Linked DNA regions of Homo sapiens: region 2 is linked to region 1. Evidence: fine-mapped expression QTL. A gene starts in region 1. The other region holds a variant in brackets. All regions are shown on one strand. Distances are between the middles of the regions. Region 1 holds the start of ANAPC2 (anaphase promoting complex subunit 2). Region 2 holds the start of LOC124902353 (small nucleolar RNA U13).

Region 1 (4,382 bases):
CAGGTGTGGCTGTCGGGGGCCCTAGCCTTATCTCCTAGGATCAACTCTGAAACGACAACCAACTGCACTGCTACCCTGGCCGCAGAGGTACAGATGCCACTGTTTGTGCCTTTCAGTGCAGTCTCTGGTCTACAGTGACAAAAGGACTCAAGAGGAGGATGAGAAAAGTTGCCGTGTAACTTTTGCAGGGATGAGCCCAACAGAAGCCCTTCACGGTCTCCCTGACCCCTGCCAGCAAAAGGAGCACTCCTTTAGTCCACCTTTAGTCCACCTAAGACCTCTCAAGTAGCTGCATGGCTACACCCCCGTTCAATGTGACAAAACCACCACAAATGGCCAAGGGTATGACAATTGCTAGAGAACTACAACAGGACCTGTCTCTCACAACAAACCCCTCTCCTCTCCAAACTAACAAGAGACTGCTTGCCCTCACAGTGACCTGATCTTCCTGGAGAGAAGCAGCAGCAAGCTTCTGTTCACAATTACAGGGCAAGGAATGTCGACGAGGGTGAGAATCATTCCTCCCCAGGATCGACAAAAGGCACAGTGGAATTCTGCAGAGTCCAGGAAGTTTGGAGTTGCTAAGAAATTTGCTGCTGCAGACACAAGCCACATAGGGCCTTACCAGGGTCAAGGCATGAATCTGTGGGACTGAAGGTGAGTGACAGAAGAGAGACACCTGTGTCCAGGACACGCTGCACAGGAATCCCTGGGACTCTCTCTCTGTCATGTTCCTGGTTATCAGGACGGCTCACCAGCTTTCTGCTGAGGCCAGCTGGACCCAGGGGAGCAGCGGGGAACCAGAAGGAGCAAGGGCATGGCCATCGGGACAGACTACTCACAAGACCTGGCTGAGCTGATGGAACTGCTCCAGAGCCTGGCGACACCAGCACTGTTGCTTGTCACTGCTGCACCCTGCACACAGCGGGCTCTGCAGGAGCCGGTAGTACCGGCGACGGGCATACCGGCTGTCCAGCTCCCCTTCCAGTTCCGGGTCTGTGCCCCCTTCCCCCTTCCTCTTACTCTGCATATAGACTCTCAAGAAGCACCCATACAGACGCTGGATCATCTCTTGGAAGGTTCTGGGGGTGCTAAAGAACAAGACTCCGCGCAACATAGTGTGGACTTCTTCTCGCAGCCCCTGAGCACCAGTGCCCATCAGCAAGCCCAGGCGAGTCCATTTCTCCAGCAGCTCTAGGCTACGCAGGTAGGGATCCAGGCGGCTCTCCAGCAGGCCAAAAGCGTCAAGGAGTAGCAAAAGGCACTGGGGCTCATCCGCAGAGTTCTCGCATTGGGAGATGGCATTCCAGAACTCAGGGGAGATGTTGGCCTGCAGATCGTTCTGCAGCACCTCCACGAACCACTCCTCCAGGACCGAGTGTAGCCCGTGGCCCCTCAGAACCTCCACCGCCGCCCGGAGCTCCTCTTCCTTTGGCGGGACTGCACCGCTGGTCCGGGAAGACACCTGGGGTGCAGAAAACCGTGAGGCGAGGGGAACACAACATAGAGGTGGGGAGAGGCGGGGAAGGGAAGAAGCTGAGGGGGAGGCTGCAAAAACTCCGCTGCCCCCTGTCCGTGCTGCCCGGACGTTGGGCCGAAGCTATGGAAGGGCTGTCAGCGGAGCTGAACGAAACGAAACGGAAAGGTGGTGGAAAATGGCAGGACAGGACAGAGGCGGATGATGGACAGAGCCGTATGAACCCGAGGGTAGCGGCCCCAAAGCGCGTACGGTCCCGGAAACTCCGCGCGGGGCCGCCCCTCTCTTCCCAGGCCTCACCAGCCCCAGCGCAGCCGGCGGCACCAGGCCGGTGCTCACGGTGTTCCAGGCCACTAACAACTCCTGTCCGGGCCGGGAGTCGCTGTCCCCCTCCGCCACCACAACTGCCGCCGCCATCTGCACCCACCGACTCCGAGATTCGCTCGGCGCGGCGCGCGGCGATGACGCACGTCTGCACGCGCAGCCATGACGCGCACAAGGCGCTCAGCGATGACGCGCTAGTTCGGCGCGCCGTGGGGGAGTCGTGCGCAGGCGCGGACAGCGCTGCTTCCGCGGCGGTTGGGGTGGTGGGGCCCCGGGCGGCGTTGACCATGACCCAGCAGGGCGCGGCGCTGCAGAACTACAACAACGAGCTGGTCAAGTGTGAGCGGCGCAGCCGGGACGGGGAGGTCGGGAGGGCCGCAGGGCCGGGTTCCCGGCTCGCAGCGGGGTGCCCCTGGACCCGCCTCGCTGCGGGCATCGCGCGGCTGAGCAGAGCCCTCCGTGCCGGAGGCCGGGTGTCCGTGGCCCGAGCCCTCGCTGGCTCGCAGGCCCCGCGCCGGGCGCTCGGGGGTGGTGCCTGACTCTGGCTTCCTCGGGTGGAAGGAGGCCCGCCCTCCGCCGCCGCGCTCCTGCCCTGGGCCCACAGCGCCGCCCCTCCCGGCCCCCAGGCATAGAGGAGCTGTGCCAGAAGCGGGAGGAGCTGTGCCGGCAGATCCAGGAGGAGGAGGACGAGAAGCAGCGGCTGCAGAATGAGGTGAGGCAGCTGACAGAGAAGCTGGCCCGCGTCAACGAGAACCTGGCACGCAAGATTGCCTCTCGCAACGAGTTCGACCGGACCATCGCGGAGACGGAGGCCGCCTACCTCAAGGTGGAGCTCGGGAGGCCAGGCCGAGCATCAGGGGATAGGCACGGCAGGGGTGTTGCCACGGCAAGGCGTCAGGACCGGCTGGGGCTCCCGGCTGTGGGCAGTCTGTGCCTCGCTGGCATTTCGGGCAGGGGCAGCGTGGCCAGGCCCATTGAGGAACCCAGGCTGCTGTGGGAGTGACTGTGGGGCTGTCTGTGGGGCCTGGGGCATCCTGGGTCCTGGTCTTTATCCGGTTCTCGCTAGCCATGTGGTTATTTCTGCTCAGTGTGAAGAGCCAGGTCTTGGGCAGAGCACCCAGCACGGGCCAGTGCTAACCCAGCCTGGCTTTGAGGGTGGAGAGGAAGTGTTTTGGGTCAGATTCCGGAGGGAAGAGGGCCCTGCCACCCCGTCTGCCAGTCCCCTTGGGCTTCCGCCTTCCCCCACACAGGATCCCTTGGCTACAGCACCCCCAGCCAGGTCCCAGCACCTGAGTGTGAGGACAGCTGGGGCTTAGGACCTTACCAACAGGTGAACATTAACAACCTTCTCACTTCTCTGGCCCCAGATCCTGGAGAGCTCCCAGACTTTGCTCAGCGTTCTCAAGAGGGAAGCTGGGAACCTGACCAAGGCTACAGCCCCAGACCAGAAAAGTAGCGGCGGCAGGGACAGCTGACCAGACCACGGGCAGGGCCTGCCTCCGTGTGCCCCTCAGCTCAGCCCCAGCAAGTGTGTGCTCAGAGCATCTTTGTTCTTCACGGCAGCAGCTACCTTCCCTCACTGTCTCAGGTGCCGAGAGGGGCAGGTGCCAGCCTCCACTGGCATCAGTGACAAGCCCAGGGCACAGCCCACCCGGGGGTCCTCGCTTCATGCTCACACAGGCTATGGGGATGGTGGGCTCCAGGTCAGCTCTGCAAGGGGCTTGTCTCTGTGGCACCCACACTCCTGCCCTGCCAGGGAGGCTCTGGTTGTCTGAGCACCATGGGGGCCCCCTCACCTTGTCCCTCCTCAGCCAGCAGAGGCCCAGGGCAAGGGACAGGAGGACAGGGGTTCTCCTTCACCACAGAACCCAAACCTCAGGTCTCACCCCTGTGGCCTGTGATTATGAATAAAGATTATCTTTGTAAAGATCCGTGCCAGCCTGCTGCTTGCCCGTATCAACAGCATGGGGCTGCCAGACACCTGCAGAGCCAGAGCCTGAGGCTCCCCCTTGGGAGAGGAGGGAGGAGGGTCTGGAGTGGCCTCCCTGTGACTGCCCCACTAGCCTCAGGGACACCGCTGAGGGTGCCCACCCTCCCCAGGCCAGCCCCACCCTGAGCCCTCCCCAGCAGGGCCGCCGGTCCTCTTCCCCTGACTGGCCCACGGCTCACCCTCCTCTCAGGAGCTCTGCTTGCTCGTCCTGTTCTCTGCCACACCCTGGTGGCCAGCATAGGACCCAGCCCAGAGAGACAGCTGGGGATGCCAAGCATATCCAGCAGCTGCCTCAGATTCAGGTCCCTCTCAGCAAGGACTGGGGGGAGTTCACACCCCCCACCCCCGTCGGTTCCTCAGTTGCAAGTTTTGCTTGGCCTGATGACACCACTGCTGCCACCAGGCCCTGCTGCCCACCTTTCCCTGGCCGCACACCAAGCACTGGCCACTTCCATCCTTCCATGTGCCCTGGGGCCTCTGTTTTGTCCCTGCAGCAACCAAGCATGGCCCGAGGACTGGGCCGATTTGGGAGGCATGTGTTGATCCAGAGGGTCCAGAAAAGAGCTGGGCCTAACCCGACCAGGGAAATAC
Region 2 (4,382 bases), 65 kb before region 1:
AGGCCTAAACGTCTCCCTGTGATGCTGTGCTTCAGCGGTCACGCTCCTGGTCCACTTTCGTGTTCCGCCCTGTACACCTGGCTGTGCCTTCTAGATAGCAGTAGCAGAATTAGTGAAAGTATTAAAGTCTTTGATCTCTCCGAGAAATACATAGAAGAAATAATGACATAAGCTGTCCCCATTCTCTCTCCGCCTCGGCTACCAAATAGGGAAGGGCCCCCTGTCCGGTGGACACGTGACTCACATGACCTTACGTATCGCTGGAGACGACTCACACTTCTTACCTGCCCCCTTGCCTTGTATCGAATGAATAACAGTGCAGCCAGGCATTCGGGGCCACTACCGGTCTCCATGCCTTGGTGGTAGTGGTCCCCTGGGCCCAGCTGTCTTTTCTTCCATCTCTTTGTCTTGTGTCTTTATTTCTACGATCTCTCATCTCTGCACATGAAGAGAAAAACACACAGGCACAGTAGGGCTGGACCCTATAGTCTTGAACTCCTGACCTCGTAATCCGCCCGTGTTGGCCTCCCAAAGTGCTGGGATTACACGGGTGAGCCACCGCGTCTGGCCCAACTTTGTTCTTTTTCAACATTGTTTTGGATCGCTTAGGGAAGTATTAACATCTTAACAATGCTGTCTTCCTACTCGCGAACGAGGGGTCCTTTGCACTTATTCAGGTTTTCTTTAATTTCTTTCAGCAATGTGTTGTAGTTTTCAGTGTGCAAGTATTTCACCTCCTTGGTTAAATTTATTTCTTGGCATTTTACTTTTTAGATGTTGTTATAAATAGAATCGTTTTCTTCATTTCCTTTTTGGACTGTTCGTTGCAGGTGCACAGAAATGCAACTGATTTTCTTGTTGATACTACGCCCTGCAACTTTACTGAATTTGTTTACTAACTCTAGTAGCTTTCTTGTGTATTCTTTGGTATTTTCTATATGTAGGATCATGTTATCTGTGAATAGAGATAGTTCTACTTCCTTCTTTTCCATTTGAATGCCTCTTATTTCTTTTTCTCATGTAATTGCCCCTGGGCAGGACTTTCAGTACAATATTTAATAGCAGTGGTGAAGCAGGCATCTTGTTCTTTTTTTTTTTTTTTTTTTTTTTTGAAACAGAATCTACCTCTGTCACCCAGGCTGGAGTGCAGTGGCTCAGTCTCGGCTCACTGCAACCTCAGCTTCCTGGATTCAAGTGATTCTCCTACCTCAGCCTCCCGAGTAGCTGGGATTAAAAGCATGTGGAAAAAACACGCAGCTGGGGCCAGCGCGGTGGCTCACGCCTGTAATCCCAACACTTTGGGAGGCTGAGGCGGGTGGATCACCCAGTCAGGAGTTCAAAACCAGCCTGGCCAACATAGTGAAACCCCGACTCTACTAAAAATACAAAAATTAGCCGAGCATGGTGGCGGGCGCCTGTAGTCCCAGCTACTTGGGAGTCTGAGGCAGGAGAACTGCTTGAACCCAGGAGGCAGAGGTTGCAGTGAGCTGAGATTGCACCACTGCACTCCAGACTGGGCAACAGAGCGAGACACCGTCTCAAAAAAAAAAAAAAAAAAAAAAAACCACGCAGCTGGCTAGGTCACAGAGCGGTCAAGGAACCCTACGTTTCTGTCAGGACAAGAGAAACGGCAAGTGGAACTGGGGGACCATACTGTGTTTTTGGGGGTCAGATGGGTAAGGCGCTGACTTTGTAAGAAGGTTTGAGAAAAGCACATCTCACATGAGTGTGAAACCAAATCATCACACTGAGGAACTACAAAAAATCAGTGTTTACAGACGTTAATTTCCACCTGAGCACAACCTGGCTCCATCCCATACATTCTGGTAGTTTCTGCTCTCGT[C/T]TTCATTCATCTCTAAGTATTTTCTACCTCCCCTTGTAGTTCTTCTTTGACCCATTGGTTAAGAGTATGTTGTTTAATTGCCACAGATTTGCAAATTTTCCAGCTTTTCCTGTTACTCGTTTCTTTCTTTTTTTTTTTTTTTTTGAGACAGCGTTTCGCTTTTGTTGCCCAGGCTGGAGTGCAGTGAGGCGATCTCAGCTCACTGCAACCTCTGCCTCCTGAATTCAAGCGATTCTCCTGCCTCAGCCTCCCGAGTAGCTGGGATTACAGGCACGCATCACCATGCCTGGCTAATTTTTGTATTTTTAGTAGAAAGGAGGTTTCACTATGTTGGCCAGGCTGGTCTTGAACTCATGACCTCAGGTGATCTGCCCGCCTCAGCCTCCCAAAGTGCTGGGGTTTACAGGCGTGAGTCACCACACCTGGCCTCCTGTTACTCATTTCTAATGTCATTCCATTGTGGCTGAAAAACATACTTTGATGGATGGACACACTAACTCACACCTACAATCCCAGTGCTTTGGGAGCCCCAGGTGGGAGGCTCATTTGAGGAAAGGAGTTCAGGACCCACCTGGGCAACATAGTGAGATCCCATCTCTACAAATTAAAATTAGCCAGGTGTGGTGGTGTGCACCTGTAGTCCTAGCTATTTGGGAGGCTGAGATGGGAGGATCACTTGAGCCCAGGAGTTCAAGGCTACAGTGAGCTATGGATCATGTAACTGCACTCCGGCCTAGGAGGCAGACAGACACACACACATGTGCACCCACGTGTGTGTATATACATACTGTATTATTTCAACCTTTGAGGCTGGGCATGGTGGCTCATGCCTGCAATCCCAGCACTTTGGGAGGCCGAGGTGGGCAGATCACCTGAAGTCAGGACCAGCCTAACCAACATGGCGAAACCCCGTCTCTACTAAAAATACAAAAATTAGGCCAGGTGCTGTGGCTCATGCTTGTAATCCCAGCACTTTGGGAGGCCAAAGCGGGTGGATCACGAGGTCAGGAGTTTGAGACCAGCCTGGCCAACACAGTGAAAACCCGACTCTACTAAAAATACAAAAATTAGCCAGGCGTGGTGGTGGGCGCCTATAATCCTAGCTACTTGGGAGGTTGAGAAAGGAGAATAGCTTGAACCCAGGAGGTGGAGGTTGCAGTGAGCCGAGATCGCGCCACTGCACTCCAGCCTGGATGACAGAACTAGATTCTGTCTCAAAAAAAATTAAAAAATAAAAAAATTAGGCTGGGCGCGGTGGCTCACACTTGTAATCCCAGCACTTTGGGAGGCCGAGGCGGGTGGATCACGAGGTCAGGAGATCGAGACCATGGTGAAACCCCATCTCTACTAAAAATATAAAAAATTAGCCGTGGTGGCCGGCGCCTGTAATCCCAGGTACTCGGAGAGGCTGAGGCAGGAGAATGGTGTGAACCCGGGAGGCGGAGCTTGCAGTGAGCTGAGATCGCGCCACTGCACTCCAGCCTGGGTGACAGAGCGAGACTCCGTCTCAAAAAAAATTAATTAATTAAAAAAAAAATTAGCCAGGCATGGTGGAACATGCCTGTAATCCCAGGTACTCGGGAGGCTGAGGCAGGAGAATCGCTTGAACCTGGGAGGCGGAGGTTGCAGTGAGTCGAGATCACGCCATTGCACTCTAGCCTGGACAATAAGAGTGAAACTCTGTCTTAAAAAAAAAAAAAAAAAAACTTTGAAAATGAAAATATAGGCCAGGCGCAGTGGCTCATGCCTGTAATCCCAGTACTTTGGGAGTTTGAGATAGGTAGATCACCTGAGGTTGGGAGTTCGAGACCAGCCTGGTCAACATGGTGAAACGCCATCTCTATTAAAACTACAAACATTAGCTGGGCATGGTGGCACATGCCTATAGTCCCAGCTACTCTGGAGGCTGAGGCATGAGAATCACTTGAACCCAGCAGGTGGAGGTTGCAGTGAGCCGAGATAGCACTACTGCGCTCCAGCCTGGGTGACAAAGTAAGACTCTGTCTCAAAAAGAAAAAAAAAAAAAGAAAATATCTTAAGGCCAGGTGCGGTGGCTCATGCTTGTAATCCCAGGACTTTGGGAGGCTGAGGCAGGCAGATCACCTGAGGTCAGGAGTTTGAGACCAGCCTGGCCTAGATGGTGAAACCCCGTCTCTACTAAAAATACAAAAATTAGCCAGGCATGGTGGCGGGAGCCTATAATCCCAGCTACTCAGGAGGCTGAGGCAGGAGAATCACTTCAACCCAGGAGGTGGAGGTTGCGGTGAGCCGAGATCGTGCCACTGCACTCTAGCCAGGGCAACAAAGAAAGCAAAAAAAAAAAAAAAAAAAAAAAAATATATATATATATATATATTAAAACTTCTTTTAATATATTTTAATATGTGGCCTAACACATGGTCTGTCCTGGAGGATGTTCCGTGTGCTTAAAAACTGTGTGTTCTGCTGTTGTTGGGTGAGTGTTCTGTGTCCGTCCTTTCTAGTTGATTTTAGCACTGTCCAGACCCTCTATTTCCTTGTTGATCTGCCACCTAGATAC

The links. PIP is the estimated chance that this variant, and not a neighbour inherited with it, causes the effect. A credible set is the group of variants that fine-mapping cannot tell apart.
Region 2: its variant is the best candidate, but not a certain one, in a credible set for the expression of ANAPC2 in whole blood (TOPMed, PIP 0.54).

What each region holds. Positions count from the first base shown.
Region 1 is chr9:137,186,639-137,191,020 of GRCh38, forward strand. ANAPC2 (anaphase promoting complex subunit 2) reads right to left here and starts at 1,922. Exons shown (of 13, transcript NM_013366.4): 1 at 1,778-1,922; 2 at 843-1,465. The coding sequence starts at 1,894. It overlaps SSNA1 (SS nuclear autoantigen 1), which reads left to right and starts at 2,038. Exons shown (of 3, transcript NM_003731.3): 1 at 2,038-2,140; 2 at 2,428-2,627; 3 at 3,169-3,728. The coding sequence starts at 2,089. The coding sequence ends at 3,276. RefSeq lists an enhancer at 1,830-2,049 and a silencer at 2,080-2,429.
Region 2 is chr9:137,121,843-137,126,224 of GRCh38, forward strand. It overlaps LOC124902353 (small nucleolar RNA U13), which reads right to left and starts at 1,766; the gene lies at 1,667-1,766. The variant C/T (reference allele first, on the strand shown) is at 1,844.